Homo sapiens: one gene and its partner. The protein of the gene in region 2 interacts with the protein of the main gene of each other region in a pairwise test. Each region holds a gene or a part of one and is shown on either strand. Other genes may lie near its edges. The genes, in order: YJU2 and FRS2.

What was found.
Region 1: the proteins of FRS2 (region 2) and YJU2 interact in a two-hybrid assay, tested with the Homo sapiens proteins (one large-scale study listed by BioGRID).

What each region holds. Positions count from the first base shown.
Region 1 is NC_000019.10:4,253,506-4,257,326, reverse strand, and holds part of YJU2 (splicing factor YJU2), read right to left. Parts: intron 2,973-3,821; coding exon 2,838-2,972; intron 1-2,837.
Region 2 is NC_000012.12:69,476,879-69,480,699, reverse strand, and holds part of FRS2 (fibroblast growth factor receptor substrate 2), read right to left. Parts: intron 402-3,821; exon of another isoform or gene 341-401; intron 1-340. UniProt on the Homo sapiens protein: Adapter protein that links activated FGR and NGF receptors to downstream signaling pathways.

The DNA of each region.
Region 1 (3,821 bases), on a different chromosome or scaffold from region 2:
GCGAGACTCTATCTCAAAAATAATAATATTAAGGAAAAATTGTAAAAGACAACCTGAGCACCTACTGTACACCGGGCCCTGGGCTAAGAGGTTTCCATATGCCATCTCATTTAATCCTCACAACCCCCATTTTACAGAAACGGAAACTGAGGCTGAGGGAGGCGAGTCTGGTGGCCACGGGTCCCTGAGAAGTGGCTTTGGAGCCAGGCAGGTTGGGAGTGAATCCTGCCTGGCTGCTTCCCAGTGCTGTGACCTTGTTGTATTTACCCTTTGGAAAAATGGCAATTCTGACAGTTTAAAAGTATGTCCACAAACTCTCTGATGCTCCTCCATTTAAGGGGTGGAGGTGACTCCCCTCCCCTTGAGCAGGGGCTGGACAAGCTACTTGCTCTAATGGAATATGACAGAAATAATGGCACGTAACTTCTGAGACTAGGATGTAAAAGCACAGGCCTTCCTCCTTGCTCTCACTCTTGGGTCACATGCTCTGGGGTACGCAGCTGCCATGTTGTGAGGTTGCTCAAGCAGCTCCCCACACAGCGAGGAACTGAGGCTGACAGCCAACAGCCAGTAGAGGGAGCCAGTTTGCGAGTGGCTCCTCCAGCCCCAGTCCAGCCTTCAGATGATACTGCCCTGGCCAACACCTTGACTGCAACCTCATGGGAGCCCCCAAGCCACAACCATCCAGCTCAGCTGCTTCTGGATGCCTGACTCTCAAAAACTGTGGGATAATAAATGTTTGTTGTTTTCAGTCACTAAGTTTTGGGATAACCTGTTATGTAGCAATAGCTGACTAACACCAGGGTAAGAGCCCCTTGCTGTCAGTGTGGAGGTAACTAAATTCACACACAGACAGCAGTGCGACAGGCCCAGGCACACACCAAACCCTTGCCAAGGCTCATTTCCCTCCCTGTTGCTCTGCATGGCCATGGAAAATGTTGTATCTGGTCTGATGTGGCTTGCTCAGAAAACTCACATTTGGCAGGGGTGGGTGGGTCCAGGAATAGATAAGAATGGATGGGAAATATGGAAGCAGGAGGGGACAGCAGGGAACACAGTCATTTAAAAATCTGTTTTATATATATATGTGTATGTATATATATGTATATGTGTGTGTACATATATATATATATATATATATATATTTTTTTTTTTTTGCGACAGTCTTGCTGTCTTCCAGGCTGGAGTGCAGTGATGTGATCATAGCTAACTGCAGCCTCAACTTCCTGGGCTCAAGTGATCCTCCCGCCTCAGCCTCCCTAGTAGGTGGGACCACAGGTGCACACCAGTACACCTGCCTAATTTTTGTTGTTGTTGTTGAGACAGAGTTTTACTCTTGTTGCCCAGGCTGAAGTGCAATGGCGCGATCTTGGCTCACTGCAACCTCCGCCTCCTGGGTTCAAGCAATTCTCCTGCCTCAGCCTCCTGAGTAGCTTGGATTATAGGCGCGTGCCACCACGCCTGGTTAATTTTTGTATTTTTAGTAGAGACAGGGTTTCGCCGTGTTGGCCAAGCTGGTCTTGAACTCCTGACCTCAGGTGATCCGCCTGCCTCAGCCTCCCAAAGCACTTGGCTGATTTTTTTTTTTTTTTTTTTTTTGACACAGAATCTTGCTCTGTCACCCAGGCTGGAGTGCAGTGGCATGATCTCAGCTCACTGCAGCCTCTGCCTCCTGAGTTCAAGCAATTCTCTGCCTCAGCCTCCCGAGTAGCTGGGATTACAGGTGTCTGCCACCATGCCCGGCTAATTTTTTGTATTTTTAGTAGAGACGGGGTTTCACCCTCTTGGCCAGGCTGGTCTTGAACTCCTGACCTTGTGATCCACCTGCCTTGGCCTCCCAAAGTGCTGCGATTACAGGTGTGAGCCACCACGCCTGGCAAGCACCTGGCTAATTTTTTAATGTTTTATAGAGACAGAGTCTCACTATGTTGCCCAGGCTGGTCTTTGACTCCTAGACTCAAGTGATCCTCCTGTCTCAACCCCTAAAGTAGCTGGGACTACAGGTTCAAGCCACCATGCATGGCTCCTTTTAATATTTCTGAGAAAATACAAAATTGTCCTATTGGAAGTGAACATAATTTCTTTTATTTATTTATTTTTTTTGAGACAGAGTCTTGCTTTGCTGCCCAGGCTGGAGTGCAGTGGTTTGATCTCGGCTCACTGCAACCTCTGCCTCCCGGGTTCATGCAATTCTCCTGCCTCAGCCTCCCAAGTAGCTGAGATTACAGGCATGCGCCACCATGCTTGACTAATTTTTTTTTTTTTTTTTTGGAGACAGAATCTCACTCTGTCACCCAGGCTGGAGTGCAGTGGCGCCATCTCGGCTTCCTGCAACATCTGCCTCCCCGGTTCAAGCGATTCTCCTGCCTCAGCCTCCTGAGTAGCTGTAATTCCAGAAGCGTGCCACCATGCCTGGCTAATTTTTGTATTTTTAGTAGAGACGGGGTTTCACCATGTTGGTCAGGCTGGTCTCAAACTCCTGACCTCGTGACCCACCCACTTCGGCCTCCAAAAGTGCTGGGATTACAGGTGTGAGCCACTGCGCCCAGTGTTAAGTTTTAAAATTTTTAGTAGGAACAGGGTTTCGCCACATTGGCCAGGCTGGTCTAGGACTCCTGACCTCAAGTGATCCTCCCGCCTCAGCCTCCCAAAGTGCTGAGATTACAGGCATGAGCCACTATGCCTGGCCTCCTGGGGACATCTTAAAGTTTTACCAACCACGCCCCCCACCCCATCTTCCTTCCTTGGGGACCTGAGGCAGGAAGGGCACAACCATTGGCACACACACACACCCACACACACAGCGCCCATGAACACCTACATGGCCCCCGACTCACCTTCATGGGGTTGTTCAGCTCCTCGTCCTCCCGCTCCTTCTGCACCCTCTTCTCCTCCTCCTCCAGGAGCTTCTCAGCCTGGAAATTCCGCGTGGCTCCATGCTCCATGGTGTAGTCTGTGTTTTCAGGGTCTGTCTGCAGGGAGGATAGACAGACATCAGCTCCTACATCCCCAGGCACTAGAATCTTCTAAAGTACCACCAGCAGATCAGGGCCCCTTCTCTCTGATTTTTACTGGTTCTACTACCTTCTCTTTTTCTTGTCTTATTGCTTTGACTGGTGAGATTTCTTCCTAGTGCTCCTCCCATCTCCATGGGCAAAAATGCCCAACTCCCTGGCATGGACTTTAAGACTCTTCTCATCTGCCCACTGCCTCCCTGCATCCTCCACTCCCTACCCTTAACATGACTGCAAACAAACTCTCCAATGAGGCAGGTGGATCACTGGAGGTCAGGTATTCAAGACCAGCCTGGCCAACATGGAGAAACCCTGTCTCTACTAAAAATACAAAAAATTAGGCAGGGCAAGGTGGTGCATGCCTGTAATCCCAGCTACTCTGGAGGCTGAGGCATGAGAATCACATGAACCTGGGAGGCTGAGATCACACCACTGTACTCCAGCCTTGGCTACAAAGTGAGACCCTGTCTCAAAAAAAAAAAAAAATCTCCAAGGTTCTGCACATGTTGTGATTTCTGCCCTTTGTATTTATTAACACCTTTTCTTTGATTATAAATCACATGTACAAATATGTATACAGCATGCCCCTGTTTTTGTTTATTGAATAGAGAGGCTAAATACACCCTGGTATCTTAAATTACACACTGGAACAGAAAAGTGACATTAGCAGAAAAACTGAAATCTACCTTTGGTCTAAATGCTAATAGTAACACTATGTTTTTTATTTTTTTGGGGACAGGGTCTCGTGCTGTTGCCCAGGCCGGAGTGCAGCGGCAGGATCATGGCTCACTGCAACCTCAGCCTCCC
Region 2 (3,821 bases):
TTAAGAAGGAACTGAATAAAATGTCTAGAAACAAAAATATATAGTAAATGAAATTTTTAAAAACCCAATGGCCAGGTGCAGTGGCACATGCCTGTGCTCCCAGATACTTGGGAAGCTGAGACAGGAAGATGGCTTGAGTTCAGAAATTTGAGGTTGTAGTGTGCTATGATCGCCGCTATGAAGAGTCACTGCACTCCAGCCTGGGCAATATAGCAACACCCCATCTCTAACATAAATTTGTAAAACTCAAAGAACATGCTATAACATAGACTAACCTAGAAAACATGCTAAGTAAAATAAACCAGACACAAAAAGACAAATATTTTATGATTCCACTTACATGAAGTACCTAGAATAGTCAAATTTGTAGAGGCAGAAACTCAAATAGTGGTTGCCAGGAGCTAGAGAAAAGAGGAAATAAGGAATTACTGTCTAATGGGTACAAGTTTTGGTTCACGATGATGAAAAAGTTCTGGAGATCAGTAGTGGTGACAGATGCACAATGATGTGAATGCACTTAATGCCACCGAACTGTACACTTAAAAATGGTTAAATGGTAAATTCTATGTTATATGTATTTAACCATAATGAAAAAAATGGGCATAATAGTTAAATAAAAAGTTTTTAAATTCAATAAACTGGTTGAACACAGCTGAAGAGAGAAGTAGCTAACTTCAAGAAAAGTATCCAGAACACAATACAATACACAAAGATAATGAAATGGACAATATAAAAGACAGGTTAAGAGACACGGAGGTAGAGTAAGAAGATCTAACATACTTCAAATACAAGTTCCAAACAGAAAATATGGAAGACAAAATTTAAGAAAAAGGCCAAAAATTCTCCAAAATTGTTGAAAGACACTAATCTTCAGATTTGAAAACCTAGTTAATACCAAGCACGATAAATAAAAAGAAATCAACTTCCAAACATAAAAATGAAAATGCAGATCACCAAGAACAAAGTAGCAGTTCTAAAACTAGCCATAAAGAAACAACAGATTAGTCCAGGCACAGTGGCTTGCACCTGTAATCCCAGCATTTTGGGAGGCTGAGGCAGGTGGATCATGAGGTCAGGAGATGGAGACCATCCTAGCCAACATAGTGAAACCCCATCTCTACTGAAAATACAAAAATTAGCCAGGCGTGGTGGTACACACCTGTAATCCCAGCTACTCAGGAGGCTGAGGCAGGAGAATTGCTTGAACCCAGGAGGCAGAGGCTGCAGTGAGCTGAGATCGCGCCACTGCACTCCAGCCTGGCAACAGAGCAAGACTGGTCTCAAAAAAAAAGAAAAAAAAAAAAAAAAAGAAACAACAGATTAACTGTAAAGGACTGTCAATCACACTGTGTATTTTTCAACAGCAATAAAAGCCAGAAGATAATGAAATAAAATCTATAATGAACAAAGAAAAAACAACTGCTAATCTAGAATATATATTCAGGAAAACCAGTTTCAGGAATGAGACTAAGAAAAAGTTATTTTCCAACAAAAAGTTTTCCAACACACCCTCCCTAGGGAAAATTCTAAAAGATGTACTTCACACAAAGAAAAATGGTCCTAGATCAGAGGTCTCAGATGCAAATGAGAATAAGCAGACATCTGCAAATACAGTGTATAGGCAAATCAAAGTAACAGTGTTTAAAACAAAAGTATCTCATTTGTTGGAGGTCAGGGAGAACTAAAATAAAGCTACACAGAGTTTAACTTCCAAACTTCAAGACAGAGGGAAATGTTAAAAAAAAAAAAAAGACATTCATATAAAATTAAAACAAAAAGCAAGGTAATGATTAATATAAAATTCAGATGGCGGTTACTTAAAGAGTATGTCAGAGATCACAAGTAGTGAGAAACATGAACGGCCATCAAAGGTGCTGGCAGTGTTCTGTTTTTTAAAGTGGTTGGTCATACATGGTAGTTCATTATATAATTCTTTACACACACACACACACACACACACACACACACACACACATAATGATGTATGTCTTTGTAAGAATAAAAGTAAATTCTGAAAATCAATATAGAAGAAAAAAATTCAAAAATCTATGGCTCCTCCCCAAAAATTTAGAATACTTCACAAACACTGGTCTTCAAAATTCAAAGAAAAAGATGAATTATTTCATTCAACAAATACTTACTGAGTGCCTAATCTGCCTACATGTGAGGTGAGAGGTGTCATGAAGATGTGTGATCTCTCTTCTCTCTCGTCTTCCTAACCTTATAGAGCTGCACTAATACAGTAGCCACCAGCCCCATGTGGGTATTCATATTTAAATTAATTAAAATTAAATTCAATTAAAAATTTAGTTCTCCTATAACACTAGATATATTTTAAGTGCTCAGAAGCTATATAGGGGCCACCATATTGAACAGCATAGACATAGAACATTTCCATCATTTCAGAAAGCTCTTAGTACTACCATATTTTATTATGATAGAAATACATTGATAATTTTAAAATCTTAAATAGAAAAAAAAATTTTAACGGATTAAATCCCCCTTAAAAGTCATTTTATTTCTATGAAACTACAGCTTCTTAGTAGTATTTAAAACAGCTTGCTATTTATTAAAAATACATAGGAAGTATCAGAAATTGTTTACCATCTCCTATGTTCCAACAAAAACCATCAGACACAGGGTTTAAAAATAAATAAACAGCCGGGCGCGGTGGCTCACACCTGTAATTCCAGCACTTTGGGAGGCCGAGGTGGGCGGATCACAAGGTCAGGAGATTGAGACCATCCTGGCTAACATGGTGAAACCCCGTCTCTACTAAAAAATACAAAAAATTAGCCGGGCGTGGTGGTGGGCGCCTGTAGTCCCAGCTATTCGGGAGGCTGAGGCAGGAGAATGGCGTGAACCCAGAAGGCGGAGCTTGCAGTGAGCCAGGATCATGCCACTGCACTCCAGCCTGGGCAACAGAGCGAGACTCTGTCTCAAAAAATAAATAAATAAATAAATAAATAAATAAATAAATAAATAAATAAGCTACTATTAAATATTTAAGCACAGTACTACTAACCAGTGATAAAGCCATGTCATAGGGATATAAAAAGCCGCAGGATGAACACTGCACTCTCTCTTAGGAGCATCAATTTTAGTTAAGAGTATTTTAGGCCGGGCGCGGTGGCTCACGCCTGTAATCCCAGCACTTTGGGAGGCCGAGGCAGGCAGATCACGAGGTCAGGAGATTGAGACCATCTTGGCTAACACGGTGAAACCCCGTTTCTACTAAAAATACAAAAAATTAGCCAGGCGTGTTGGCGGGCGCCTGTAGTCCCAGCTACTGGTGAGGCTGAGGCAGGAGAATGGCGTGAACCCAGGAGAGGCGGAGCTTGCAGTGAGCTGAGATCGCGCCACTGCACTCCAACCTGGGGGACACAGCGAGACTCCGTCTCAAACCAAAAAAAAAAAAAAAAAAAAAGTATTTTAAAATACTGTCGACATGCATGTAAGATAGCAAAATGCAACATTTATATAAATTTTAAAATATAAAACCCTACAGGCATCAAAAACTTCAATTTATAGCAGGCACACTTTGGGCTGCATTCCTAGACTTCTGAGGGTACTATTCATCCACATTTCTGCCATTGGGAGTACTTTAAGAGAAAAATTTAAGCACTGTTAAAATAAATGAATTAAACATTTTTTATTTACCAGCAACAATGATACACAACATAACTCTATAAACCCATATCATTTTAATATCTAAAGCAGCAAACCCACAGTTTTCTTTAAAATTAACAGAGGGTCCAAGCTATTTCTACTTAACCTGAACATTTTGCCTTGGACATTCTAATAGAATTTAAATATTTCTA